Linked DNA regions of Homo sapiens. The protein of the gene in region 2 purifies or fractionates together with the protein of the main gene of each other region. This does not show direct contact. Each region holds a gene or a part of one and is shown on either strand. Other genes may lie near its edges. The genes, in order: PPP4R1, KDM3B, DEPDC1 and IDH3A.

The links.
Region 1: the proteins of KDM3B (region 2) and PPP4R1 fractionate together in Homo sapiens (co-fractionation; one large-scale study listed by BioGRID). This does not show direct contact.
Region 3: the proteins of KDM3B (region 2) and DEPDC1 purify together in Homo sapiens (affinity purification with mass spectrometry; one large-scale study listed by BioGRID and IntAct). This does not show direct contact.
Region 4: the proteins of KDM3B (region 2) and IDH3A purify together in Homo sapiens (affinity purification with mass spectrometry; one large-scale study listed by BioGRID and IntAct). This does not show direct contact.

Annotation. Positions count from the first base shown.
Region 1 is NC_000018.10:9,549,470-9,557,125, forward strand, and holds part of PPP4R1 (serine/threonine-protein phosphatase 4 regulatory subunit 1), read right to left. Parts: intron 3,954-7,656; coding exon 3,853-3,953; intron 930-3,852; coding exon 809-929; intron 718-808; coding exon 583-717; intron 1-582. UniProt on the Homo sapiens protein: Regulatory subunit of serine/threonine-protein phosphatase 4. May play a role in regulation of cell division in renal glomeruli. The PPP4C-PPP4R1 PP4 complex may play a role in dephosphorylation and regulation of HDAC3.
Region 2 is NC_000005.10:138,387,863-138,395,518, reverse strand, and holds part of KDM3B (lysine-specific demethylase 3B), read right to left. Parts: intron 4,507-7,656; coding exon 3,258-4,506; intron 2,349-3,257; coding exon 2,147-2,348; intron 1-2,146. UniProt on the Homo sapiens protein: Histone demethylase that specifically demethylates 'Lys-9' of histone H3, thereby playing a central role in histone code. Demethylation of Lys residue generates formaldehyde and succinate. May have tumor suppressor activity.
Region 3 is NC_000001.11:68,478,013-68,485,668, reverse strand, and holds part of DEPDC1 (DEP domain-containing protein 1A), read left to right. Parts: intron 1-1,578; coding exon 1,579-1,719; intron 1,720-1,964; exon of another isoform or gene 1,965-2,771; coding exon 2,772-3,623; intron 3,624-4,056; coding exon 4,057-4,229; intron 4,230-6,348; coding exon 6,349-6,525; exon of another isoform or gene 6,526-6,540; intron 6,541-7,656. UniProt on the Homo sapiens protein: May be involved in transcriptional regulation as a transcriptional corepressor.
Region 4 is NC_000015.10:78,151,149-78,158,804, forward strand, and holds part of IDH3A (isocitrate dehydrogenase [NAD] subunit alpha, mitochondrial precursor), read left to right. Parts: intron 1-4,064; coding exon 4,065-4,127; intron 4,128-5,759; exon of another isoform or gene 5,760-6,014; intron 6,015-6,399; coding exon 6,400-6,483; intron 6,484-7,656. UniProt on the Homo sapiens protein: Catalytic subunit of the enzyme which catalyzes the decarboxylation of isocitrate (ICT) into alpha-ketoglutarate.

The DNA.
Region 1 (7,656 bases), on a different chromosome or scaffold from region 2:
CTTGGGAACTCAAATCAAAAATTACATAATTAACTGCCCACACGGACAGACACAGTTTTTAAACTGCTCTACGGAGACCTAGAGTGTTCATTCACAGGTGTTTCATTTTCACACCTGCGCTCTGGGTCCCAGACATGAGCACCCTCTAGTGGGAACCGTGGTATGGTATATGTGTGCACAGTATGTGTGTGGTGGGGTACATGTATGTATGCCTGTGTAATATGCAGTGAGGAACAGTGAGGAACATGCATGTATGTGCACTGTGAAATGTACATATACACACGTCTGAATGTGTGCAGAGCAGAACACGCACATACCAGGCATGTGGTGTGGAACAAGCACATACAGCAGGCACGTGGGGTGTGTGTGGTGCATGCCAGTGTAAGGAGGGGCTTGGCTAGCTGGGAGAGAGGGGCCACCAGATGCCCAACAATGGGGGCAGATGATCCTATAAACAGCCAGGCTACTATAAGGTTCTGTTCCTTAAGAGTAAGGAAGAGGGTGAGAGAGAGGTAGGAAGTTAAAGAAGACATTCTTCTAGGAGAAAAACTCACAAACAGGTAAGCCCAGGGCCTCGCTTACCTGGCAGACAAAGACAAAGGCTTGCCGACCAGACCACTTGGGACATCTGCCAAAGTTCTCCACAAGCTCATTGATGAGGTCCACTCCGAACGTTGGTGGTGTTGCCGCGTGCAGCTTCTTCACCATCTCGCTGACCTGGGAGGGTGAGCATGGAGAAATGAGGAACAGCTTCCATTCTAGGATCTTAGAGTTTGCTGATCTAAAATTTTAAAAGTTCAATACATACCAACTTGTAGGAAATCCAACGAACAGAAGAAACTTTGTCTGCACACAGATTCAGAGCAATGGGACGTAAATAGTCATAAACATCTCTGGGACTATATAACTCTAGAAGTAAAATCAGCTGTCTACAAAAAGGAATTACAAAAAGACAATGTTTAAAAATCAGCGAGACAAATGAAAATAGGTTACCCATTTAAATCATCTGTAATACTGGATTACTGAGCACCTGTCTCAAACATACGCAAAGAGGAGTGATTAAGCAGACCTCTCCTGTACAGTTACCTCCAGTCTCTGTGTATCTGGAAATGCACTTACATGCTATTCAAGTTCCTTAGAGTGTAAGGAAAACAAAAGCTGTAGAGTTCTGCATCCATGGGGACTGAGACAGAGCAAAGCACTTCCTAGTATGTTCAACTGGAACATGGCCCACACTGATCCATGGTCACAGTTTGGAATGTGCTGAGAAGCTTCCATCTACAATCAAGTTTCTCAGTAAGAAGTCCCCGCAGAGGGAGGGAGTCCACTGTGTACCTGTCGAGGCTCTGAGGAGCCTTCCTGGAAGGGATTTGCTAGGGATAACAGAGGGAGGGTGTCCTCCAGCAACCTTCCCATCACATCTGAGGGGCCCTGAGACTTTCATGACATCTACCAAGCTAACCTGAAAGCTTCAATGATGGCCTTGAAGAAATACCTTGGATGTGAGACTTTTGCCTTTCAGATTTTATGTTCAAGAGGATTTACATTTCTAATAAGCAGAAAGTCAACTGTAACATGAATATAGATTATGCAGCAATGATAAATGCACCTGTGTATACAAATATGCATCCTCAAAGAGACACACTTATTTTCTGACAAAATTCAAAATAAAAATTCCAAATAGGACCAGTTTCTGCTTAGAATACAGAAAACTGCAAAGAACGTCACTGACCCTACAGTAGAAAAAGCTACATAAACTTCAAGATCTTTTCTTGAGCCCATCAGAGAGCTGGGGTTGCAAAGCACACAAACAACCTAACTTCCCAAGATGGGAAAGAGAACTGCCCCTCAGCAGAGCCCGGATGGACAGGACACCTGCTAGCACCTAACAGGGCAGGGAGAAATCAGCTCGAATTGCAGTCAGCTGCCCAGGGCCAGATGGTGGCTGGCAGGAGCATGGGGTGGCTCAAACAAAGCCAGATGTGCCCGACACAGGGAGCTCACATTCCCAGACAACCTTCTGACTTCCACAGGGTACCTGCCTCCCATGGGTGCTTCAAGAAAGATGGTCAGGAAAAACAGGAGAGATGTCTCATAGCAGGCAGAAGCAACTGACTGACAGCCATGAATCATCAAGCACTCTGCTGGGCCCTTTTCTCGTGCAAAGCAAAAGGCTTAACCTGCTGGTGGAGGGGCCCCAAAGCCTGTCCACCCTGTGGGCCCAGCAAAAATACTGCAACTGTGGGAGAGGAGAACTAATGCTCCTTATTCCAGGAGGAGCTGTAGGAAGTCCTGCCCGAGACCAAGCACAGATAGGAGGTCCCACCCATTACGCAGGGGTGCAGGTACCGCTAAACGCCGGGTGGAATACTCACACTAGAAGACCACTGGTACCCCAGCTGCCACCCTCAGCAAACGACAATGGTAGTGGCAGCCCACAGCGAGAAAAACTGAAGCCCCAAGTACACTGAACGTAACCACAGCAATCACAAAACGCAAACCCAGCTTGACCCTGACTAGATGGACTCACACCCCGGCACTATATGGCAGAAGAGGAGGCGTGTGTTTTGAGTCAGAAGTGGGCAAGCCAGAACTCAATGGAGTGGCATCTTTAATATACTGAAAGACAAACTGTCAGCCCCACATTCCATACTCAGCAAAGACATCATTTGAAAATGCAGGTGAGGTCTATAATCCAGAATATATAAAGAACTCTTACAACTCAACAACACAACTTAAGATAATCCAATTTAAAAATGTGCAACAGACTTGGATAGACATTTCTCCACAAAATATACACAAATGGTTGACAGGCTTATGGAAAAGTGTTCAACATCATTAGTCATTAGGGAAATGCAAATCATACCACAATGAAGTGCTGTTCCAAGCCCATCAGAACAGCTGTAAATGATAAGCGAGTGATGGATATGCTAACTGCCCTTATCTGACCACTATCCGATACGTATTGCAACATCATTACATACCTCACAAATATGCACAATTATTATTTGGCCAATTTAGAAATATTTTTAAAATTTAGTAGAAAAATAGGTGTTAGTGAGGAGACAGAGAAACTGGAACTCCCATACATTGCTGATGGGAATGTAAAATGGTATAGCTGTTGTGGAAAAGTTTTGGCAGTTCCTCAAGAAATTAAACACAGAATTACCATATGGCCTTGCAAATTCACCTCAAAAGAACTGAAAACAGATTTCAAATATTAAATCTTGTACATAAACGTTCCTAGCAGCACTATTCACAAAAGACCACACCCCCAACCCAAATGTTCCTCAACAGATGAATGCCCTAAACGAATGTGGTATATCCATACAATGGAATATTACTCAACCACAAAAAGGAAGGCAGGTTCAGCTAGAGGATACAATATGGAGGACAACTGAAAACATTGTTAAATGAAGAAACCAAGCACAAAAGGCCATGTGTTATATGACTCCACTTGCATGAAATGTCCGCAACAGGCAAATCCATAGATAGTAGATGCTTATTGGGCATGGGTTTTTCTTTTCGGGAGGTTAACATTTCAGAACTAGATAGAGGGAATGGTTCCACAACACTGTGAATGGACTAAATGTCATCAACAGCAAATTTGGCTATGTGTATTTCACCATGATAAAAATAATATAAAGATGAACTAAAGACATTTTCAAGAAAAAATAAAAAAGCTGAGGAAATTCACTGACAGTAAGACACATATTACAGGAAGCGTTAAAGGGCTAGAATACCACATAGAAACTTGGATCTACACAAAGTAATGAAGAAACTGAGAAAATGTAAAAATGAAGTAAATATATACCCCTCCAAAACATAATCTAATAAACTGTTAGAACTTACTCAGCCAGTTCAGCTCGAAACCGCCAATTTCTACTATTATCTGTCACCAAAAACTCCTGAAGTTGATAAAGATATTCTCTTCTTTTGTCAATATGAAGAAGCTAAAGTAACAAAATAAAAATATTTACCAGGACAAGGTACAGACAGTATTTCTTTTACTAGAGTGCTTAAAAACAGACTGTAAGCAATATGGTTAATTCTTCTGAAGAGGAAATGTAGTAGCTGTATTTAAGTGTTTTAAAATTTGGTATTAAGTTTATTTTTCCCTGAATAATTCCATTTGCCTTCAGGAATCACCATCTTGTCTGGAAATCTTTGTTCCTTGTGCCTATCAATGAGCCACGCTAAACCCCACAGTACCCCGGGCACAGCCTGATTACAGGGCTTGCCCCCTTTATTCATATGACATCCTTGTTGCCATGGCCCCGCTTAAGGCAGTAATTATGCTCTTAACCACGTGTGTAAGCCCTGCGTGTGACGCTGTGACAGCACAGAGTAGGCATTCAGTATTTGTTGAGAGAAAAAAAATAAATGTATCCCAATAGCTGCTCTATAAATATTTAAAGGTAAGTTTATAAACGGAAGCAAACCAACCTAACTGTGCATCAGATGGAAAACAATCACACAGGGAAAAAAGCCAAAGTGTGAACTGACTACTTTGACCATACATCTTCAAGGGACGTTCTAAGGACAGAATGTGCTAGGAAGTCCTGAATATTATGTAGTTGATTTGATGTGGGAATTATTATTGGTGGAGTAATTCTGAAACTATTTCATTTATGTTGTGGAACTCAGCAAACAACTAATTTTTTTTTTTTTTTTTTGAGACAGTGTCTCACTCTGTGGTCCAGGCTGGAGTGCAGTGGCGGGATCTCGGCTCACTGCAACCTCCACCTCCCAGGTTCAAGCGATTCTCCTGCCTCAGCCTCCCGAGTAGCTGGGACTACAGGCGCATGCCACCACGCCCGGCTAATTTTTTGTATCTTTAGTAGAGACGGGGATTCACCGTGTTAGCCAGGATGGTCTCGATCTCCTGACCTCAGGTGATCCGCTCGCCTTGGCCTCCCAAAGTGCTGGGATTACAGGTGTGAGCCACTGTGCCCAGCCACAACTAAATATTACACATTAATGTTACTAAGAACAGACTTTTTACCAGGAGTAAAAAGAAAAAAATATATAAAGTGAAGAGAGAAAACGGTATTGAATTGGAAGCAGTTCATAACAATATGAAGTTAGTAATTTAATTAAAAAAAAAAGCATCACACCTCCTAGCTACTATCTACACCTCCTAGCTACTATCTCCTGAAAAGACCTAAAAGAAATGACAGGCCAGGAGCAATGAGCACTTCCAGTGCCTGGATCTCAGTTTCTAAGGACCATTCTCCACTAAAAAGGACCACAGTTCCTTGGAGAAATAGCTGACTCCAGGCTGGGACAGGGAAAGGGAAAGTTGAAACTGAAAGTATTGATGCACTTAAAAATCAAAGGACAAATCAAAGGACACAAGAGGCAGCTTTAAGGGGTCTCCACTAGTCAAATTTGATGCTCAAAACAAATGACAGAAATGGATTCCATTATGTTGAATTTTTAAAATCCTAGAGTCCCCACTAATACTAAAATAACTTTCGAAACCGGGGAAGGAGAGAAGGCACAGGTTATTTTTACATGGGAATGTTACTTAATAAAAACAGAAGGAATGGCCCAGCATAGTGGCTCACATCTGTAATCCCAGAACTTTGGGAGGCTAAGGCGGGGCAGATCACTTGAGCCCAGGAGTTCAAGACCAGTGTGGGCAACATAGTGAAACCCTATCCCTACAAAAAATACAAAACTCAGTTGGGCGTGGTGGTGCGCCTGTGGCCCCAGCTACTCAGGAGGCAGAAGTGGGAGGATCATCTGAGCTGGGAGAGGTGGAGGCTGCAGTGAGCCATGATTGCATCATTACACTCCAGCCTGGGCAACAGAGTGAGACCCTGTCTCAAAATAAGTAAGTTAATTAATTAAAAAAAAACAGAAAGAATTATGAAAATAGAAAATCACTCTTTCACAACCAACACAGTTAACTGATTCAGGTAAGAACCATGTATAGATGCCTGGATATGAGAGCACTGGTGAAGGACTCTAGAGAAAAAGATATTCAGAGTTCTAAAGTATCACCTCACCAATTCTCTATTAACCACAAAAGGTAAAAGGTCATTTTACAATGGAGTTGTCAGCCTTCTCGTCACCAATGATGGGAAGAGCCAACACCACATTAGCCCTGATGTGGCACATTCAGAAAAATACATGACAACCTACACAGGTTAACATGTCTGCAAAAAAACCCCGCTTACTCAGAATCAAATTGTGTAAATTCAAATTGAGGGTAATTCTGTAAAACAACTGGTTTAGACTCCTCAAAAATGCCAGTGACACCTAGATTTAAGAGGACTAAAGAAAGATAACATTTAAATTTAATATGCACTTTAAGGGATTCAAAATTGAGCGGAGAAAAACTATAAAGGACAATACTGGGACAATCAGAAAAATTTTAGGCCAGGCATGGTGGCTCACGCCTGTAATCCCAGCACTTTGGGAGGCCAAGGTGGGCGGATCACAAGATCAGGAGATCAAGACCATCCTGGCCAACACGGTGAAACCCCATCTCTACTAAAACAAACAAACAAACAAACAAACAAAAAAACACAAAATCGGCCGGGCTTAGTGGCACGCACCTGTAGTCCCAGCTACTCAGGAGGCTGAGGCAGGAGAATTGCTTGAACCTGGGAGGCGGAGGTTGCAGTGAGCCAAGATCCTGCCACTGCACTCCAGCCTTGTGACAGAGCGAGACTCCGAATATGATCTACATAAAATATAAAATGGTCTCAATGTTTTTGTTTTTTACTTTTTTGAGATGGAGTCTTGCTCTGTCCCCCAGCTGGAGTGCAGTGGCATGATCTTGGCTCACTGCAACCTCCACCTCCTGGGCTCAAGCGATTCTCCTGCCTCAGTCTCCTGAGTGGCTGAGACTACAGGTGCCTACCACCACGCCCAGCTAATTTTTTGTATTTTAGTAAAGACAAGGTTTCACCATGTTGGCCAGGCTGGTCTCAACCTCCTGACCTCAAGTGATCTGCCCGCCTCAGCCTCCCAAAGTGCTGGGATTACAGGCGTGAGCCACTGTGCCCAGCCTCAGTGTTTTTTAAAAGGGAGGACTACAATTACTTCTATCACTCAAGCCTTAGAATTACCAGAGTCAATTTCAAGGCTAAAGTCTAAAAACAACAACAGTACTCCAGGAGTAAACAATTTGTAAAAAATCAGGGCTATTCACTTTGGAGACCACAGCTCCTCTATCAAAGTAGTGAGGGCTAAACGTAAATTCTCAAGACGCCTGAAATACCACACAAAGCCTCCAAACTTAATACACAGTTGACTTTCAACAACAGGGGTTTGAACTGCATGGGTCCACTTATACTTGAATTGTTTGTCCCAACCAGATTGAAAATACAGTATTCCCGGATGTGAAACTGGAGTACACGGAGGGCAGACTTTTCCTATACGCAGGTTCCACAGGAGTACTCCATGGATTTGGGTGTGCATGGGGGACCTGGAACCAATCCTCCTGCATGTACTGAGGGATGACTGCAGCTAATGATTTTTTTTAACATACATTTCACTCAATAATTTTGAAAAAGAAAAAGATACAAATGTCTGTAAACTATCATCTAATACTGTTTTAAAAGTGAGAGTATAATTATGGGACCATTTCTTTTTTAAGTTGCATCTTAACATCAACTTATGGCTGTGTTTTCTTACATAGAA
Region 2 (7,656 bases):
GATCCTGGGATTACAAGCGTGAGCTACCGCCCCCATTCAAGTCAGCAACATTTGACACAGTTCATTATTCCTTCCTGGAAATACTTTCTTTAGTTGTCTTCTGGGATACCTCACTGCCTAGTTTTCCTGCTACTTCACTAGCTGTTCTTTCTCAGTCTCCTTTACTAGTTGCTTCCATCTTTCTCACCTCTAAACATTGGAGAGTACCAGAGTTTGGTCCCTGGACTGCTATTCTTCTTTATCTATGCTCTGATCTCACTTAGACTGACAGCTTTAAATACCTGGTGATATCCAAATTTATATCTCCAGGTAGGACCCCTTCCCTTAACTCTAGAGCTGTATCCCCAGCTGCCTTCTCAGTATTTTCCTTTGAAAATCTAACAAGCATCTCAAATTTAACACGGCCAAGTTAAAACTCCCCCTTTTCCTCCCCAAACCTGCTTTTCCCTAAAGAATCTCTTTATCAGTAAATGGCAATCTCATTCTTCCTGTTTTTAGGCCAAAAGACATATCTAGAACCAGACATAGAATCATCCTTAAGTCCTTTCTTTCATACTTCACATCTAATTCATCAGAAAATTATGTCTACTCTATCTTCAACTACTTCTCATCATGTCCATCACTATCTCCGTGGTCCAAGCCCCATCATTTCTCACTTGGATAATTCCAACAGCCTCCTAACTTCTCTGCTTCTGCCCTTGCCTCTACATAGCTTATTCTCAAAAAGGTGGCCAAAGTGGCCTTTTAAAACATTAATCAGTGTCACGCATCAGCTCAAGGCCTCCAATGACTTCTCATCAGAGTAAAAACCAAGGCCTTTGGAATAGCCCTTTAAAATGTGGACCCATCATTAACTCATTCACCTCAACTCCTTTTCCTTCTTTGTTTATTCTATTTTAGCAACCTAACTTTATGGACACACCAGAAATACTCCAGCTTTGGGATGCTTGCACCTGTCTGGAATACCTGTCACAGTGTGGTGTATTCTTTCACCTCCTGCAGGCTGTTCCTCAACTCTCACTTTCTCAGATCATCCTGTTTAAAACTGTAGCCTCTCTAGCATCCTCACACTTCAATCCTCTTTCCTTATTTTTCTCATAGTTATTATCAGCTGACATATCACTTATTATTTTTTCTTTTTCTTTTAGAGAGAGCCTCGCTTTGCTTCTAAGGCTGGAGTGCAGTGGTACGATCAAGGCTCAATGCAGCTTTGACCTCCTGGGCTCAAGTGATCCTCCCACCTCAGCCTCCTGAGTAGCTGGAATTACAGGTGTGTGCCACCACACTCGGCTAATTTTTAAAATTTTCTGTAGAGACTAGGTCTCACTATGTTGCCCATGCTGGTCTCAAGTGATCCTTCTGCTTCGGCCTCCCAAAGTGCTGGAGTTAAAGGCATGTAATCATGCTTGGCCTTTTTTCCTTATTTACTGTCTGCCTCCCCAAACCTTCTGAGGGCTGAAATTTGATTTTTTTGTTGTTCACTGCTGAATATTCAATGGCCAGAACAAGGGTTGGCACACATTAAATGCTCAATAAACATTTGCTAAGTGAATCCACACCATATTGGTAAACCATTTGGATTTACTTTAAAAATTAAAGATTCTTGAAAGGTCACTCAGAAGAAACTCCCCTTCTAAGTTTATCAAGCAGAAGAAAAGTAACTAAAGAGATATTGTTTGGTAAAAGCAGACGATATTCCCACATTTCCATCAGTTATATCTATTTCAAAGATGCTTCACATTATCTCCAAATCTTACCTCCCCGTCTTTTTAACATGACTCAAGTTACTCTAGCACTGAGGAGGAATAAGCAGTCAGGTAGATCCATAATATGAAATGCAGTCCTTCTGCTTATAATAGTGGTTTCAAATAGAACCAACCCAAGTTAGGAATTACTCAGGGAATAGCACAGAGCTGCAGCTAACACTGCTCAATTTTAATTCTCCAAGGACAAAATCACATGTCATTTTACAATCCAAACAACTAAGTGACTACTATGCCAGAGCCTCTTCACAGACGCTGAGAGCAAAGGAGTTGAGGAAAGCAAAGACCAAGATGATGAAACATGTTTATAGACTCAGAGAAAGAGTGGAAGTTATGTGTCACTAATGAAAACTAGCAAAGGAGGAAAACAGGAGTTTGGGTACCTCCGGAAGTGAAAGAAACGGCAGGCTACAGTAGAATCATCTTGCTCCTGTTCCTTAAACTTCCGGTACCGCTCCAGGCGGCATTCACGACACTTGTGCAGATGAGGTGCCACATTGATGCATGACCCATCCTGCAGGAAGGGCTCTCCAGATTGCTTCAGCTTCTTCACTTTGCTTACATCTTTCAGCACTGACTGGCCAACTGTGGCAAGGGGGAGAGAAGAAAAGTTTGTCATGAGGTGTAAACAGGAACCAATAGCATGATTCTTTTGGGGACAGACATTTGTTCTGACCTGGGTTGCTACTCCTTTCCCTGCTTGGGCATGTACCCATTATGTCCATCCTTGACAGGAAGGGAAAGCAAGGAGCAAAGAAGCTTCCATTGGGAGCTAAGAACCATGCAGAACTTGTGGGAAGTGCCCCACTATGGCAAAACAACTTTGAATATGGATGTGAAAAACATAAGAAGCCAGAATGTAGCCATCACCTGCCTCTAGTCTCTCACGATATGGCTATTCTGTTCATCAGGACCTCTTGAGCTCCCACAACATAGCAATTCCTATTGAGAACAGCTGCTTTTACCATGAGACTTTGTTTTACCCGCTTCTGGACCATAACCTCACACCACACAAGTTAATGGATTTTGATAGAGCTGTTAAAATCCTTATGTAGGTTTCAGAGAGGAGCAAACTGAGGGGTGATTCTCTCTGCTTCATCAAGTCTACAAATGTCTGCTATGTGGGAATGGATACCAGTTCCCAGTAACCCCTCTGAAGTAAAGAGGATGGGCCAAAGTGAAGTAAAAAGGGATGAGACAAATGCAAAGAAATAGTTCCTGACCAAAAATAACTGACCGCCAAGGAAGATCAAGAGTCCTCCTTTGGGGGATTATCATTATTTGGGACAGATACTCCTCCTACAGTGCCGGTTTAGATGCAATCCTGCCCTGAACCAGGCCTGACGAGGGGCCTCTGCCAGGTCCTCTTGGCTCTGTAATTCTATGAGATTACAGAACTCTCCATCAAAGTGAGTGCCTCTGCTGCACAAGAACACGACAGGCATTTGAGCCCAGTGCCAGAGCAAAGCCCAAATATAGCCCCAGCAGGATCACCTTTCAGGGGGGCAGTCCGAGGCCGGCCCTTGGGGGCCTGCTTCCCTTTGCTTTTGCCCAGCAACAGCTCAGCACTGCGCTCCCCATTGGGGCCCAGCTTCCCCATCAGGTGCTCTGGAATTCCCTTCAGGCCTGTCTTAGCCTGCAGCTGCTCCTCAGAGTCACTCAAATCTGACAGGTCACTGTTGGTGCTGGAGTCCGAGTCTTGTCTGCAAGCCAAGCTTCGTTCATCCAGTGAGAACCTTTTCACAGCTTCAAAAGGAGCTTTGTTCTCCTGTGAAAAATCTGCCGGGGAGGACAGAAAGCCGCCTGAGTGCCTGCCAAAGACGTTACTAAAGGTTTTGAGGAGGGGATTGTCCTGCTGCCCAGGCCCCACAGTTGGCCTCTCCTCTGTGGGGCTAGAGGAGAGAGTTGGCATCTCAATGGGCTGAGTGAGGCTGCTGGTGGGCGAGCTGGAGCGGCCATTCCCCATGGCAGAGAGGCTTGGGCCCCCACTGGTAAGAGCTGAGCCCAGAACACCAGATACTAGCTTGGAGGAGTCAGTTGTAATGAAGAGGGGTTTCTTCTTTGCTAAAGATGCCGAATCTGCAGAGGAGTGAGACTCGGGCCAGCTGGGTGCCACCTTGGAGGTGACAGTGGTAGCAGAAGAGGAGCTACCTGATGCCTGAGATGCAAAACTACTGAAAGGGCTGTGTTCAACTTTCTCCACAAATGCCAGGAAAGGATTAGAAGGCTCTTCTCGGGACAATTTGGGGGGCTGTAAAAATAGATTTTCATGATTCTCTGGGGTACGGGCATTTAGGAGGCTCCGTGGGAAGGCTGGAGTGAGGGTGGGCATGGACTCTGCAGGCACTTTCCGGTCCACAGAGCTGCCAGCCTTAGAGCCTGGCTTAGTGTCTGTTCCAAGAACGGATCTGCCTTTACACAGGCCTGAGCTCAGGCTCTCAAGGCTTTGTTTGAATGAGTCCCGACTAGAAGAATCATCAGCCAAACTCTCTGAAACAGTAGTGAAGTAGTTACTGGTAGGTAAAGTTTGGGACATGCATTGAAAAAACAAGTTTTTGGAGAGATCAGTGTCTTTCTGTGCCTCTTGTGCAGAGCTACAGCCAAAAGAGAAGCCCAAAGGTTTGTTCTCTGTGGCTAGAACACCATTGGACTGGCTCCTTCCACTTCCAAAAGTCAAAGGTTGCGATGAACTAGGGAGAGGTGCTCCAAATCCAGAAGAGGCCAGAATAGAATTTCTTGAATTCTGAAAGGAAGATAGCCTGAATTAGTGATGCTGGCTTCTCATGACAATCTAATGATCTCTTTCTTGGACCTCACTATCACCAGATCAACATTTCTTGGGGGTCCATCAACTTTTCTCTTTTACAATTCCATGGATCTGCTCTTGTAACTGGAGTTCACCAGCAGTGGGGAAGAAATCTGCCACAGACTACACTGAGGGCATCTTTAGCAAGGTGAACCAGAGATAGCAGGATGTCATTCATCCTGCAATTCCCTTGGTTGTTATCCAATTGGTCGTCACAGTGCTAGAAGGCCTTGTAGGCTTTTTGGTATCTATTTGGAAGTGAAGAGCTCCTCTAAGGAACTGGAGAAAAGGGTTCCTGAATAGACATCAGCTTTTACAGTGACCCCTGTAATATTAATATATCTCAATGACCTTGGGAGCTATTGTTAAAGTTTTGATTTATTTAGGCTACTGTAAAATTGCCCATTTTACAAAAAGTGGCTTTAATCCTAGGACAAGCCTACTGCACGTTAAAGAAAAGTGTTTTCCTTATTAATCTGAAAGTCCACAACATGGACCCTTTTGGATTTCGGCATCTATTTATGGGTTCAAGTCAACCTACAAGTTGAATATCTACTTCAATTAACGTTAGACGTAAAGATGCTAAATTAAAGAAAGCAAGCTATTTACCAAGACCTTTGTTATAATTAGAATCTAATAAGAATCCAAAGAGGATAAATGTATATACTGACAATATCCCAAAAAAAGCCTTCAGCATAACTGAAGAATGAAATAACAGAACACTCCCCTTTCCTTCTTTTACCTTCAAAATGTTAACTTCTGCTTGTGAATGACTGTATAAAGAAGAATGGGGCCTGGCGCGGTGGCTCATGCCTGTAATCCCAGTACTTTGGGAGGCTGACATGGGCGGATCACGAGGTCTGGAGGTCAAGACCATCCTGGCCAACACGGTGAAACCCTGTCTCTACTAAAAATACAAAAAATGAGCCGGGCATGGTGGCACGTGCCTGTAGTCCCAGCTACTCGGAAGGCTGAGGCAGGAGAATTGCTTGAACCCAGGAGGCGGAGGTTGCAGTGAGCCCAGATCGTGCCACTGCACTCCAGCCTGGCAACAGAGCAAGATTCCCTCACAAAAACAAAAAAAAGGAAGGACTTTCCTATATATTAATGTACCCAGATACAGACAAGAGAAAGGGACACACACACACACACACACACACACACACAGAGAGAGAGAGAGAGAGAGAAGAGACCCATAGGTAGGTATGAGCCCAAACTTATATTTATTAATTTAATAAAACCCAGATCCTAGTACTTGACTTGCTAACCATAGATTACTTTCAAGTAGTAGAGGATGATATACCTTAATATTCACTCTAAAACACTGGAAATAAAAATTATTCCATCACCACTTAATGGATATGGAGTTTTCCTTTTGGGGTGATGAAATTTCTGGATCTAGATAGTCTTCATAGTTTCGCAACACTGTAAATGTACTAAATGCCACAGAATTGTACATTTTAAAGTCGTAAGTTTTACATTATGTGTATTTTACTACAATTAAAAAAAAAGTGATTCCCGATAAACAAAAGGGCTATTCTCTTATAAAGAGGGGAGAGAGTTTTAATTAAACTATTCTTTAAATACACAAGAGGAGTTAACATTCAGGATTTCCTTGAGGAGTAGCATAGAGACGTACGAATCAAGCAGGCCACCTAGGCTTGCCTCTGTCTCTGCTACAGAGACTACTTCAGGGTATTTTAGAGTTAAAAAATAAAACTCCTTTTCTTTTTTCTTTTATCTTCCTACTAACCAGTAAGTATTGACTTCAACTTACTCCCTACAATAGAGAAAAAGAACAGACACAGCCCTGAGGTGCTGCTGTTGCTTCACAGGCAGGATTTGGCCAGGAGCCTTGATACCTGCATGACTGCAAGGAACTAGCATGGGTAGCTCATGTTTCACTCCTAAAGTTACCCTTTAAAAATAAATACACACATGAATGAAAAATAATTTGGATAGTCTTTCATTTTCCTTCAAATGATTAAATTCCAAATCCTTTTCTTATAAAAAGGTGATGAGAAACTCATGTCAAGCCAGTTTTTAGGGCAAGAAGTTTCCTGTTGGCTCTGTCTTTATTTTAGATCAGCCATTGTAATGAAAACATTCATTTCTACACATTTATTTATTTATTTTTTGAGACGGAGTCTCGCTCTGTCACCCAAGCTGGAGTGCAGTGGCGCAATCTTGGCTCACTGCAATCTCCGCCTCCCAGGTTCAAGTGATTCTCCTGCCTCAGCCTCCTGGGTAGCTAGGATTACAGACACATGCCACCAAGCCCAGCCTTTTTTTTTTTTTTTTTTTTTTTAAAGACGGAGTCTCGCTCTGTTGCCCAGGCTGGAGTGCAGTGGCACAATCTTGGCTCTCTTGGCTCACTGCAAGCTCTGCCTCCCGGGTTCACGCCATTCTCCTGCCTCAGCCTCCCGAGTAGCTGAGACTACAGGCGCTTGCCACCACGCCCAGCTAATTTTTTGTATTTTTAGTAGAGACGGGGTTTCACCGTGTTAGCCAGGATGGTCTCGATCTCCTGACCTCGTGATCCGCCCGCCTCGGCCTCCCAAAGTGCTAGGATTACAGGCATGAGCTGTACTATGCCTGGCTCATTTCTATACTTTTAAATCATATCCTAGAAGAAGAACCAAACAGAAACACAGCAACATGACTGTCATAGTCACAGAAATTCCCTCAACCTGTTTAAAAGAAAATACTCTTTCAATCTGAATTTCATATATTCAGCTTTGCTACTCTAAGAGTAGCAGCATTCAATGGATCTCTTTTATAGCATGTAAAACCTGGTCTATTTTGTAAGCTCCATTTACATTCACACTGCCTTTGACATGGAGTTGTTTTTGTTTTGTTTTGTTTTTTTGAGACATAGTCTTGCTCTGTCGCCCAGGCTGGAGTGCAGTGGCACAATCTCGGCTCACTGCAAGCTCCACCTCCCAGGTTCACGCCATCCTCCTGCCTCAGCCTCCCGAGTAGCTGGGACTACAGGTGCACGCCGCCACGCCCGGCTAATTTTTTGTATTTTTAGTAGAGATGGGGTTTCACCGTGTTAGCCAGGATGGTCTTGATCTCCTGACCTTG
Region 3 (7,656 bases), on a different chromosome or scaffold from region 2:
TTTGCTCATGGTTAGGAATTCAGATAGGCATACTGACAGGGATTTCTCTGACATCTGGTCTTCAGGGATTCTGTCTTCCTTCTCGTTTCAGTCTATGTAATACCTAAACGATACCAATTATATAACTTACTGGATTCCAAATTAGCAACAATGTATTTAGCCAGAGGCAGTGTTAAGACTTACTTTACTTGTTATTCGATCCCCCAGAGTAATTCTGTGAGATGTAGGAATTAGTAATCAGTATACCATCCCAATTTTTCCAACAGAGAAAGCCAAAGCTTAGAGTATCTTCTTTTAGTGCAAATGAGCTAGAGCTCAAACCTAGATTCTCTATAAATTCTATATTTTTAATATTTTTAATTCCTGTAAACATGTATTTTCTGTCTTAGAGAACTTTCTAATGATTATCAAATCTTTTATTCCACATACTATTTCTTATGTCCTTAGAAAAATATCTATTTTGCTCTGTTGTTAAGAGTGTGTGTGTGTGTGTGTGTGTGTGTGAATTGTTTTCTTTAATTCTTTTTCAGTGTGTGCTCACATTTGTGTGTCCATACAAAAGTTTGGAAACAGAGAAGTAAGAAATATTATTTGGACTTGGGAAGAGAAACATTTTAACTTGAAAGATAGTATAATGGCTCTAAAACCTAGATGCATACCACAGTCACTAAAGAGACTCTCCAGAGATTCTGTAGGTCAGGAATCTTTAAAAAATATATATATATATATATGCCTCCAGAAGATTACTATAGTGAAGATTCTCAGGTTAGTGTTTGGAAAACACTCAGTGAACCAGAAGCAAACATTTCTAGGTCAGTAAATTTCTGGCCCCGCCTTCATGGATTATGGTCTCCATAGAGGACTTTGTATTTTTAATAGGCACATTGGATGATTCTGTGATATAATCTATGAACCACACTTTAAATGTTGTTGTAGCTTTAAAAGTCCTGGGCCTTGTGCTTATTTTACACTGCTCTAACTTCTAATTCAAACTTTGCTACCAGAGTCTTTTTCATCTTGGGCAAGGTACTCTCAGCCTCAGTTTTCTTATCTATAAAATGAGATCAGATCTTATTTTTGAGGAAAACACAAATGAGTAGGTATGATTATTTCAATAGTTGTGTCAAGCTTAAGAAACAACAATGTAAAGATATTATTTAAATTCATTAAGGCTATGCTTCATGTCAGACAAAATATATTCATGAACATGTAAATTTACAAAAAGACAATTTGAAGGAATTATTTGTGTTGTCCAAATATTCTTTCCTTTACAAAATGAATTACAATAAAATCTTATTAAACTAAGCTTCCCTAATGCTTTTAAAATGATATTAAAATTTTGCTTTATGTATGATTTTTCAGGTATACAAATGTTAAACAAAATACTAGCAATTGACTGCTTCCAGTGGAAAGATAATGAGGAAGAATGAAATACACCCTTTAAATTTTTGAACTGTGGCAGAATTTGTTGTTAAACCTAGCTCCTTCATGAAATACAGATTTTATACTTTTTATGTTTAAAAATTGTATTTAAATTAAAATATACTTTACCTTTTTCTCTTGCCTTCTACTTCTTAGGGCCAAGAAGCAATGATATGAATAATCCAACTTATGTTGGATTTGAACGAGATGTATTCAGAACAATCGCAGATTATTTTCTAGATCTCCCTGAACCTCTACTTACTTTTGAATATTACGAATTATTTGTAAACATTTTGGGTATGTATAGATTTTACTGATTTTAGTTCATTTTGTTAAAGTTTTCAACTTTCTTATAATTTAGAAGATCTAAAACCATAGGTAAATATAAAGGTGGCAGCCTACAAATTATTTTAAAATTCAGTGAAATAAGGTTCCGAGGTTACTCATACTTCCGCCCAGCCAACTACCAATTCGGGACTTCCCTCAACCCCCTACCAGACTCAATAATTCACTACAATGATTCACAGAACTCAGAAAAGCACTTTAACTATGACTATTAGTTTATTATAAAAGCTAGACCTCAAGAATAGCCAAATGGAAGAGTTACACAGAGCACGGTATGAGGGTGGGGGTGGCACAGAGTTTCTCTACCCTTTCTGGTCATGCCGTGATCCCAGCACATCCATGTGTTCACTAACCTAGAAAACTCCCTCAGCCTGCATGTTTTAGAGTTTTAATTGAAGTTTAATTACCAAGGCATGACTGACCAAATCATTGGTCACTGTTGTCAATTGAACTCAATCTCTAGCCCCTTTCTCCTCCCACAAGGTTGTAGTTGGTGATGAAAATTCAAACCATGGCCGGCCCTCAGTTACCTTAGCATGAACTCAGATACGCTGAAATAGGCTTGTTATGAGTAACTAAAGACTTCTATCATTCAGGAAATTTCAAGGATTTTAGGAGCTCCATACCAGGTACCAAGGACAAAGATCAAATATATGTATTTTATTATACCACAATTATCTTATATTTATGAGGTTTCTAGTACTTGCAGACTGAGAACAGATTTTTTAAATGTATTCTGGCTCAATCCATTTAATTAGGCTGTTGAAATAATTTTTTAAAGTTATATTACAAATGGGAAAACCACTCATCTGTCTTGCACGTTTGTAACCGAATGTTGCATGTGTCCTATTTAAGTGGCTTCTGAATTAAGCAACTACTGTGTATACTATACTAACAATATATACTATAGTAATGCTTTATTTTTTAACTTTACTATTGTTTTTGTTTTATTTTTGTCCACTGTCATACAGTTGCATCTTAATTTTTGTTTCATTTCCTGGTAGTTGTTTGTGGCTACATCACAGTTTCAGATAGATCCAGTGGGATACATAAAATTCAAGATGATCCACAGTCTTCAAAATTCCTTCACTTAAACAATTTGAATTCCTTCAAATCAACTGAGTGCCTTCTTCTCAGTCTGCTTCATAGAGAAAAAAACAAAGAAGAATCAGATTCTACTGAGAGACTACAGATAAGCAATCCAGGATTTCAAGAAAGATGTGCTAAGAAAATGCAGCTAGTTAATTTAAGAAACAGAAGAGTGAGTGCTAATGACATAATGGGAGGAAGTTGTCATAATTTAATAGGGTTAAGTAATATGCATGATCTATCCTCTAACAGCAAACCAAGGTGCTGTTCTTTGGAAGGAATTGTAGATGTGCCAGGGAATTCAAGTAAAGAGGCATCCAGTGTCTTTCATCAATCTTTTCCGAACATAGAAGGACAAAATAATAAACTGTTTTTAGAGTCTAAGCCCAAACAGGAATTCCTGTTGAATCTTCATTCAGAGGAAAATATTCAAAAGCCATTCAGTGCTGGTTTTAAGAGAACCTCTACTTTGACTGTTCAAGACCAAGAGGAGTTGTGTAATGGGAAATGCAAGTCAAAACAGCTTTGTAGGTCTCAGAGTTTGCTTTTAAGAAGTAGTACAAGAAGGAATAGTTATATCAATACACCAGTGGCTGAAATTATCATGAAACCAAATGTTGGACAAGGCAGCACAAGTGTGCAAACAGCTATGGAAAGTGAACTCGGAGAGTCTAGTGCCACAATCAATAAAAGACTCTGCAAAAGTACAATAGAACTTTCAGAAAATTCTTTACTTCCAGCTTCTTCTATGTTGACTGGCACACAAAGTAAGGCTGTTGCTTTCAATGCATGCAATATTAACTTTGAGTGTTTACTAACTCTGTGTTTTGCTTACCTGGCTTTTCTTCCTTGAAGTTGCTTAATTTTTTTTCCTCCAAGAGGAATTATTTAAAAAGACTTTTGTCTGTGACATAACCAAGATTTATTCTGTTTACCTAAGGAACTTATTTTCTTTTTTGCAATTTCATTTATTCTGAGTCACTTTATTTGTAATAAGTGAAGAATTTTAATACTTAGAAATAAGTTGTAAAGAAAATAATGAGAATCTTACCATGCTTTAGAGGAACGTAATTTCTAGAAATAGTTAAAAGATGAAATACTAAGATATTATTTTACCTTCTTTATATAGCTGTATATACTGGTAGTATGAAAGCAACTAGTGTCATTGATGATTTTTGGGGGGGTATTTTTGTATTCTAGGCTTGCTGCAACCTCATTTAGAGAGGGTTGCCATCGATGCTCTACAGTTATGTTGTTTGTTACTTCCCCCACCAAATCGTAGAAAGCTTCAACTTTTAATGCGTATGATTTCCCGAATGAGTCAAAATGTTGATATGCCCAAACTTCATGATGCAATGGGTACGAGGTCACTGGTAAGTTGATTTCTTATAGAAAGAATAAGTCTGATTCATAAACCAAAATAACAAAACCAAACTACGTAAAAGTACTACTCAAGTGATGTCTTAGTCTTAAAGTGCTAGATTCTTAGGTTGGAAAGGCTCTTTAACCTTTCCTAGCAGCAGAATTTTGGTGTATTAATCTTTTGTGCACACTCTGTTATACTTTCACATGCTGATGTTAATCCTGGCTAAGGACTTTGCCTGCTCATTCATCCTGAATCACTTCATAGTGATTGACCAGTCAGACCACGTTATGTTGCCTTGTGCCAATTCTGTTTGGTGGATAAGGAAGAAGAAATGTAGGTACTGTTGAAAGCCTAAGGAGACTATAACTGTGGACGCAGAGAACTAATGGAACTTAATACAGTAAGTCAGTGTTTCAGAGAATATAGTAATGGAAAAGTAGGTCATCGTGGACAAGAAGTTGGGAAGCACTATTGCCAAACAGCCTTAGGCTCCTTGTGAAAATGAGGATAAGGGCATTTATATGCAGACAATTGATTGGAAATGAACTCTTGAAATAGTATCTTTAATCTCTTTCTTTTTTTTTAAGTCACCACTTCCTCAAAATGCAACTTCAATTTACAAGAGGTTCTTATAGCAAGGAATCCGGAGTTATGCTTTCTTCCACGCGTTATTAAAGATAGTTCTTTAACAATGACAGACCTAATATAAAGAAGAAGAATTATTCTTGAGTAATTATAGCACTATTAAAAAGCTAGGAAGTTTATAGAGGAAGATGTTTTCAGAGACATGACTGGGAAGGTGATAATTTTGGTTTTGCACTTTTAAGATTTGAAGTCATAGGACCTCCAAGAGAAATTGAAATTTGTCCAACAGAATGTTGGAAATATGAGCCAGGTGAAGAAAGATCAGGGGAGAATGCAAATTGATTTGGTCATTTACATAGGGATAGTACTTGAAGCTATGAGAGTAGATGAGCTCTACAAGGCTAAGAGTGTGAAGAAAGAGCAAAAGGCTGAGGTCTGAGCCATGGAAGGAGACAGGAAACCCCGAGTGATGTGTAGGAATAAAACTAAAAATGTATCAATTCTATAAATATTCTGATCATCTACTATGTGTGAAATATTTAAAACAATTCTGATTTCTAAGTATTTTAGAATGAGGGGTGTGTGTGTGTGTGTGTGTGTGTGTGTGTGGTACAGTTAGAGGGTTGCATAGATATAAGTGAAAGTAACGAGAGTAATAAGTGAGAGTAATCAATTTTATCCCAGGATTTGAAGATCCCATAAGATGGAATTGAAAAATGTGTGTTTTAAATTGCTGTCTAAAGACTGACAGAATAAACATTTTTAAAAACTATTTTCCAGCATTTCAAAAGCTAAATGGCATCAGCTTTGCAACCACTTATGAATAGAAGTGTTCTATATGTTACACATTCTCCTGGTTTGTGTTTTTCTGTGGGATTCATTTAATGTAATTAGTTATTGTTCTCTGACAATCTTTAAGCTTAAGCAACATATATATGTGGTATTAATAGAACCTATGGTGTTTACTGATAAAATTGTGACAAAATTGTAGAAAAACCAAAGCCTTTTATAATTCTTGGGAATTACATTAAGGATATACTTTTTTTTTTTTTTTCTGGTTACACAGGATCACGCTCTGTTTCCCAGGCTAGAGTACAGTGGTGTGATCATAGCTCACTGCACCCTGGAATTCCTGGGCTCAAAAAATCCTTCTGCCTCACTCTCCCAAGTAGCTGGAACCACAGTCATGCACCATCATGCCTGGCTAGTTTTTTATTTCTTCATAGGTATAGGGTTTCACTATGTTGCCTAGGCTGGCTTCGAACTCCTTGCCTCAAGTGAGCCTCTCACCTCAGCCTCCCAAAGTGCTTAGATTACAGGCATGAACCACCATGCTCAGCCATGGAAAAACTTTAAAAAGGATTTATGTATAATCAAATTCTTACATTTCTAACTGTATAAATCGTTGTCCTCATTTTTAAACTGAGGGCTGCTTACCACTTTTTCCCAATACTTCACATAATGCTACCTGGAAATTACCGATATTCTAGTTTGTATGCAACCTTAGCTTTTTAAATTCACATCTTTTAATATTTTTCTAGATGATACATACCTTTTCTCGATGTGTGTTATGCTGTGCTGAAGAAGTGGATCTTGATGAGCTTCTTGCTGGAAGATTAGTTTCTTTCTTAATGGATCATCATCAGGAAATTCTTCAAGTACCCTCTTACTTACAGACTGCAGTGGAAAAACATCTTGACTACTTAAAAAAGGGACATGTAAGTATTGTGAGTCTTAAAATTCTCTGCAATAGTCAGTTGCAAGTGGCAAACTCATCTCAAAATAGCTTAATCAAAAAGGGAGACTTTATCAGCTCCCATAAACAACCTCTAAAAGTCAGGAATGTAGACAGAATCTGGGACTCAAATAGCTATATGACTCTTTCCATCCCTCCATCTCTTATTTCTGTGTTGATCCTGTGTTTGACAATGGCTCCTTCACATGATGAGGAATGTGGCTAGTTGAAGTTCATGAGTTAGAGCCTTACATTTGCAATTCAAAGGAAAAAGAGCCATTCCTCCGTCTCCAATTTAAAAGCTCTGGATGTAGACTCTTAGCATAGTTGAGGTTAAATATGCATCGTTTAGGTTGTTAAGAGTGAGTAGGATGGAGATAGGGCCTTACTCTGATTGGTTCTACACAAAGGAGAATTTATTCTTCACAAAAGGTGAAGGTAGAGGGGTAAAATGGGAAGGAACTATTAAAAGAAGGAGAGAAGGAATACTGAGCAGCCAAAATAACAGACATCTACTGTATTCTGTCTTTGGCTGCCCAACACATGTTTATGTTTTTCCCATACATACCATTCTAATATTGCCCTGGCTTATAATTATAACTATCTCCTAGAATTTCTTTCTCTTATCAGAAGATGTTAGAAGCTCTGCCTATGTCCCTAGGCCTCAAAAAAAAAAAAAATACATGAAAACTAAAAATATTTCATTTCAGTAAATATGCTGATCATCTACTACCTGCACTGTCAGAACATTAAAGTCTTAAGATGAATTAGAATAACACTTAGATTGTTATTTTATAGTTAAAAGAATAAAATCCATAGTTAATGGTAATAATTATAATACCTGTCTTTATTTAATGCTTATTGTGGGCTGAGCCCTTTCTATACATTTTCTTATGTAATTTCCATTTTAATGATGAAGAAACAGACCAAGAAAAGTTAAATACATTGTTGAATGCTACAAACCAAGTAGATTATGGAGCTGGGGTTTAGAACCTACTGACTTACATACCTCTACTGCATAATACATAGTTTTTTTAATGGCTGAATGTTTGATTGGTGGTAAATTAATAGGTGCTAGATCCCATCAAAAGAATACTTTATCATATAAGAACAT
Region 4 (7,656 bases), on a different chromosome or scaffold from region 2:
GTCATTTGACTTCTGGGCCAGCTTCTCACTTTAGGGATTGGAGCAGAAGGTGGCTCAGAGGCTGACCCCAGGATGGTGGAGGTGCTGAGCTGGATGCCGGTTTCAATCAGGACAGTTCCTCTGTTGAGTTTCCATTTCAGGTTGTGGCCAGGCATGGTGGCTCATGCCTGTAATTCTAGCACTTTGGGAGGCCAAAGTGGGCGGATCACTTGAGGTCGGGAGTTCAAGACCAGCCTGGCCAACATGGCGAAACCCCATCTCTACTAAAAATACAAAAATTTGCTGGGCGTGGTGGCGCACGCCTGTAATCCCAGCTACTCGGGAGGCTGAGGCAGGAGAGTCACTTGAACCCAGGAGGTGGAGGCTGCGGTGAGAGGAGATCATGCTCCTACCTGGGTAACAGCAAGACTCTGTCTCAAAAAAAAAAAAGATTTTTTTTTTAAAACCCATCTCAGAACCCATGTACAACACTATTTACATGTTTTTAAGTTAAAAAGGAAATGAGTTGTGGATTAAGATGGCCCACGACCTGAAGTCCAAAGTTCAGGGTTTTGGTCCAGGCTTCATGAACCTGGCCTCAGTTTCCTCATCTGAAAAGTGCCAATAATGCCTATCTCTACAGGTTTTATATAAATAAAATGATGTGAGATATATATATATATATGCATATGAGTATTCTATAAAGTAGAAGTCCTGCCATCTCAGCCTTCCATGAAGCTGGGACTACTGGTGTGTGCCACCATACCTGGCTAACATTTAAAATTTTTTTTGTAGAGGTAGGGTCTCACTCTGTTGTCTAGGCTGATTGGTCAGGTCTTCTGTCACAGAGACATAAGCTAGTTTTGTGTGAATGTCTTTTCCCTCTTTTTTGGGCTGGGAGAGGAGAAAGGACTCATGTCAATTTTTTTTTTTTTTTTTTTTTTTTTTGAGACAGAGTTTTGCTCCTGTTGCCCAGGCTGGAGTGGAATGGTGAGATCTTGGCTCACTGCAACCTCCACCTCCTGGGTTCAAGCGATTCTCCTGCCTGAGCCTCCCAAGTAGCTGGGATTACAGGCACCCACCATCACACCCAGCTGATTTTTGTATTTTTATTAGAGACAGGGTTTCACCATGTTGGCCAGGCTGGTCTTGAACCCTGACCTCAGGTGATCCACCGGCCTCAGCCTCCCAAAGTGCTGGGATTACAAGCGTGAGGCACTGCGCCCGGCCTTTTTTTTTTTTTTTTTTTTGAGATGGAGTTTTGCTCTTGTCACCCAGGCTAGAGTGCAATGGCGCGATCTTGGCTCACCGCAACCTCTGCCTCCTGGGTTCAAGTGATTCTCCTCCCTCAGCCTCCTGAATAGCTGGGATTACAGGCATGTGCCACCACGCCTGGCTAATTTTGTATTTTTAGTAGAGACAGGGTTTCTCCATGTTAGTCAGGCTGGTCTTGAACTCCTGACCTCAGGTGATTTGCCTGCCTCAGCCTCCCAAAGTGCTGGGATTACAGGCGTGAGCCACCGCATCCGGCCTCATGTCACTTTTATGCTCTGCTTGTCACGAAGTAACCTTTAAATGGTGCTTTGGAAAATTTTATTTTACTTAAAGTTCTGGGTCATTGTGATGACTTAGGTGCAGTACTGCTTTATTCTAAGATCATGCAAGAGAGATGACAAACATGGAAAAGACTGGTCCTTAAAGAAGATCATTGCAAGTATTAAGGCTACTTGTTGGCTTGGAAACTCTTCAGATAGAGATGTGACTGAGGCTGGACTCAGTTTTGTTTGATTGTTGTTTTGTTTTTTTTTAAATTATTGAATACCTTCTATGAGCCAGGGACTGTTCTAGACACTAGATACAACAGTGAACAAAACACAAATCCTTACACTCCTGGGTTTACATTGCTGCCCCCAGCATATGCAGGTAGGATGGGTTTACATTTTAAAATCAGTTGTTTGAGTCGGGTCTTTTTCATTCTTTCTTTCTTTTTTTCTTTTTTTTGTCCATTACCTAGGCTGGAGTGCAGTGGCATAATCATAGCTCACAGAAGCCTCAAGCTCCTGGGCTCAAGCAGTCCTGAGCTCAAGCCGACTTAGCCTCCCATGTAGCTGAGACCATTGGTGTGCACCACCATACCTGGCTAATTTTGTAGAGACAGGGTCTCACTTTGTTGCACAGCCTGGTTGGTTGGGTCTTCTGTCACAAGGACATGAGTTTTGTGTGAATGTCTTTTCCTTCTTTTTTGTTCAGGGAGAGGAGAAAGGACACATGTCAATTTTCTTGTCACAAAGTAGCCTTTAAATGGCCTCCCTTCCAATAGCCCACTCGCTGGTGGATGAATCATGCCCTAGGATTAACATTTTGGCCAATGGTTTTGGCATTCTTTTGGATTTGGCCCAGTCTTATTTTCAATGCAGAGTCATGACTATAGATACCAGAAGATTAGAGAATAAAATTCATTCATACCTTTCTTGGCTGTTGGTTGTTACCAATAAATATTTCAGCAAAGGTTCAGACCCCAGAAAAAAACATCAAGATAGGATATAACAAATGTGTCTTTGCTCATGTATCTAGCAGGAGAAAAAGTTACTTTTTAAAAAATTTAATGCAGCCGGGTGTGGTGGCTCATGCCTGTAATCCCAGCACTTTGGGTGTCCAAGGCAGGTGGATCACCTGAGGTCAGGAGTTTGAGACCAGCCGGGCCAACATGGAGAAACCCTGTCTCTACTAAAAATACAACAAGATTAGCCGGGCATGGTGGTGCATCCCTGTAATCCCAGCTACTTTCAGGAGGCTGAGGCAAACCCAGGAGGTGGTGGTTGCAGTGAGCCGAGATTGCACCATTGCACTCCAGCCTGGGCAACAAGAGTGAAACTCTGTCTCAAAAAAAAAAAAATTTAATGCATTTTAATACCTTTGGTCTATGTACCCAGTTTCTTTTTTTATATTGTTTATAATAATGTAGTATGACTTTGTACCAGTTCTCAAGGACTAAGTTATTAAAGTTTATAATAAACCTTTAAAATTTATATTTCTGGCATATGATGTTAATTGGAGAGAGAAAAAAAAAAAAAAACACGTACCAGTGGTAATATCTTGGTGTGGTGGGATTACTGGGTAACTTTTATTTTATATTTTGTATCTTTTCCTAGTCCCAGCAAACTGACAGTAATGACCACATTACCTATATTATCAGAAGAAGCAGTAATTTATTTAAAATCTTTATTCTGTATGGCATGGGCATCAGATGGTATTAAATAAACTTTCTTAGATTTTACTATAAAGTGTAATTTCTTAATATTCACAGAATAGATATAATGTATAATTGAAGGAGCACTGGACCAGGAGTCAGAAGACCTGTATGTGGGTTTCCATTTTGCCAATTATTCGCTGTGTGACCTTAGGCAAATGCTTTTCTTTGGGACCAGCATCTCCGCTTATGAAATAAGCAAGTTGCCAGGTGTCGTGGTGCACACCTGTAATCCCACCTACTCAGGAGGCTGAGGCAAGAGGGTCACTTGAGCCCAGGAGTTGGAGACTGCAGTGAGTTATGATTGTGCCTTTGAATAGTCACTGCACTCCATCCTGGGCAACCTAGGGAGACCCCATCTCAAAAAGCCTAAAACAACAACAAGAAATAAGTGAGTTGTGCTCTGGATTTCATGAGGAACATCCTGGCTCTAAAATTAATGGTAATTTTCTTAGAATATATGTTACCCCTAAATTGACCGAATGGTCAAGAATGTTGGCACAAAATGATCCACTCATCTGAGAAGAATCTGTATGTTGAGCTGAAAAAGTAGTTTTATTCTACCTTCAACATCTTTTATTTGACAACTTATATTCGTTAAATTGACTTTGAAAATATACAGTACTCAATCTAAAGTAAAAATCTGAGTATTTAGGCTTTCAAATCTGAGATAGCTTGCCACATTGAGCTAATACATGAGATTTGTATTCCTGGGAAGCTACTGAATATATCTGTGCCAAGTTGCAGCATTACCATCCATCAGGACTTCCTCGCTCTTGTTTACTGTATGTGGTTTAATTCTGTGTGTGATATTTCTCTGTTGATATTAATATAGGTCTCTCGGCTGCTGGGGGCATTCCACAACCCAAAACAGGTGACCAGAGGTTTTACTGGTGGTGTGAGTATAATTATGTCTTTTATTTTTTCCTTTTAGAAGTTTCTCAAGAAAGATGCTCTAACATATTTATTATATAGCATTTTATCTCCATTCATTTAGAATTTGGGAAAATTGGCCATATTTATAATGTATGTTGAAATTACTGGCTGACATGCACAAATCTGTTAGGTTACTTGCGCATTTGAAAGAATTATCTTACAGCTGGCTATGTAAGTTTGTCACATTAATATCTTGAGGGAGCCTTGTTAAAAATAGAAAGTACCCTTGAGCCTGTTATTTTATTTCACAATCTCATTTTGGTGAGACAGCTTTTTTCAAAACTAGTACAAGTTGAGAGAAAATTGTTGAGAAGCTTCAAAACCTGCTTTGCATTTTTATTTTATGGGCTTCCCTAAACCCAGTAGATTGAGTGCCAATTAGGAATGCCTCGAACATCTATAAGCCTTGTAGGCTTATACTTGCCTTATATAGGCTTTGTAGACTATCACAGTAGTAGATCATCTATTGTTCATTAAATCTGCTGCTTTTAGAATTCCCAGCATCAGAATTCTGTGCTTTAAAAGCTGATACCACATTTTTGGAACATTCTAAGACTGTGGGTCAGTGACTTCCTATTTGTTTTGATCCCCGCCCCGCCTTTTATGGAATCTGATTTGGATTTCATAATTCCTATACTCCCATATAACATCTATGCCGTGAAAGATTTATAAGACCATAGTACATTTTTTCCTCCATTTACTTTCTGTATTGTGGAAGAAAAGCAGATTTTCTGGTGACTGGATGACATTTATTATTACATGTTGGGAGAACAGGAAGAAGTAGCCAAAGCGTTCTTTTGGCTCTGCTTATGCCAAAAATGCAGGATGGGGCTTGCACTTCAAGCTCAAGGATAGCCATGCTAGCATTTCAAACGCATTCTGAAAGCTAATAAGATGATCATTGCTCTCTGCTATTATTTAATTTTCAGGCTATTTATTTGAAAAAAAAATTAGCTTGATGGAGGAGGTTATTTTTGAAGAAATAAGAGGATGTATTAATTTTTTTAAAGACTTCTTCAACCCGAGAAAACTGGTATGAGCCTTAGCCCTGGCTAAGACTGAGGTGGGAGATTTGCTTAAGGCCAGGAGTTCGAGGCTGCAGTGAGCTGTGATCACACCTGTGAGTAGCCACTGTGCTCCTGCCTGGCAATGTAGTGAGTCCTCATCTCTAAAAAATAAAAATTGAAAATTAGAAAAATGAAAAAAATAAAAATGTTTCTTCAGTTGTACAGAAACTAATCAGAAATAATTAGTCCACGTATCTGGGCAGACATCATTGGAAGGCAAAGGACCAAGGAAACTTGAATTAGTGACTTTTTAAAAATGCAGTTCAAGCAACTAGAACTGAAAAAAAGCCAAGCCCCTAGGTGGGGTAAAGTCCCAAGATAATAAAATATGTGGTTCCCAAATGGAAAAAGAGGTGCTGATCTTCTCCCTTACATATTTTTATTTCTGCATTTGAAATGCTGGCTTCGTTTTGCCTGAAGCCTTAGAATAAATCATTGCTGTTACATTATAAAAACAATAATTGTCATTCTAAGTGTGACTCAGGCTTTGCAGGTATGATGACATATACTATTCTTTTTGGTTGCAGATCAACTTTGCCAAGCTTATGTAGATTACTCTTAGATTTAAGCAGACAGTTTTATAGAGGAACTAAGAAAAAAATGGAAGCTCTCTTGATAAAAAGTCTGATTTTCCCTGAGTACCAAAACAGACCTCAGTAATATTTTGGAAATGTGTCTGAAAATGTTTTGCAAGACTGAAGAAGTTGCATGAGAAGCTTTCCAGGATCACAATGGAAAGGAAAGGAAAACACTTGCCTTCATGAGAAACCGTCTAAATTTTAGTGAGAGAACATTGTTAATTTTTTGTTGTTGTTGTCTTTGGTTTAAAAGATTTGAATTAATTGGTCTCTTTGCAGCTTGTCTGAAAAGAAATATCAATTAGGAAATCTACTTGGTAGTTTAATTTATTTTCGTTTTATGTAAAGAGTATCATTTGGTTCTTTTTAAAACCTCTGAACTCAGGTAAAGAGTAGGATTGCAGAGTCTCTCCTCTGTTGATTCCTGCCTCCCCTTTGATGACCCCCGGGGAGGTATGTTTGTTTTCTTAACAGCATTTGAATCTTCCTGAGACATCTCATAAAGTGGATTTCTCTGTCAAAATATTCTTTTTTAAGCCTTCAAAAACAAAAATTCTTACTGTCTTCTTTGATGATTTCTTATGTTCAGGTTCAGACAGTAACTTTAATTCCAGGAGATGGTATTGGCCCAGAAATTTCAGCTGCAGTTATGAAGATTTTTGATGCTGCCAAAGTAAGTGGGCTTAAAAAATACATTTAATGATGACTCACTGAAAAGTTTTCTTAGCCAGTTGGATTCTGTGAACTTTTAGGATGCATTGTACCCATTTCTATGAAATTTAGTCAGGTCTGTTGTTAATCTCCACCGATTGTCACTTTAACAGTGTGTGTCTCAGTGTTTGCTACTGCCATTATTTCTTTCTTTCTTTTTTTTTTTTTTTTAAATTTAGAGATGAGGTCTCGCTCTATTCCCAGGCTGGTCTTGAACTCTGGGGCTCAAGCGATCCTCCCACCTTCACCTCCCAAAGTGCTTGGATTATAGGCGTGAGCCACCGCACCTGGCTGGCTGCTCCTGTTGTTGATAGTTTAAACTCCTGCATTGGCATCAGTTATATGTAAAGTAATCAAAGTAGTACTGCAGTATTTGTGGATCTTTAAGTCCTGCTTGGGTTTAAGATCTTTTAAGCCCTGCCAAATCACCCACCTTTTTGCAAAAAATAAAATAAAATAAGACTAGAATTGCTGTTTCCAAAATCTATACAGGCGCTTTTGAAATAATCTCTTTAAAATAAAATTTCTGATGTGTTATCAAGAATGGAATGTTATTACTTCTAACAGCTGAGCCTTTGATACAGGTAGATAATTTAAAAATTCTGTAAGTGGATTCAGCTGTAAGCTGCTTGTGAACAGCACCGTGTCTGTCTGAGCTCGTGTCCTAGGACATGTTCAGTGTGCTAGCTGTATACACATGAAGGATGTAGGTAGAGAGAAAGGGATGCTTGTTTATACCTCCAACTGGTACATTCATAGGTTATGCAATACATACATACATATATATATATATATTTTTTTTTTTTTTTTTTTTTTTTTTTTTTGAGACAGAGTTTTGCTCTTGTTGCCCAGGCTGAAGTGCGATGGAGCAATCTCGGCTCACTGCAACCTCTGCCTCCCGGGTTCAAGCGATTCTCCTGTCTCAGCCTCCCAAGTAGCTGGGATTACAGGCACATGCCACCACGCCTGGCTAATTTTTTTATTTTTAGTAGAGACAGGGTTTCATCATATTGGTCAGGCTGGTCTCGAACTCCTGACCTCAGGTGATCTGCCCACCTTGGCCTCTGCACCGGGCCTGGCCTATATATATATTTTAAACAATGTAATATTGTTTTTTAAAAACAGCTTTATGGAG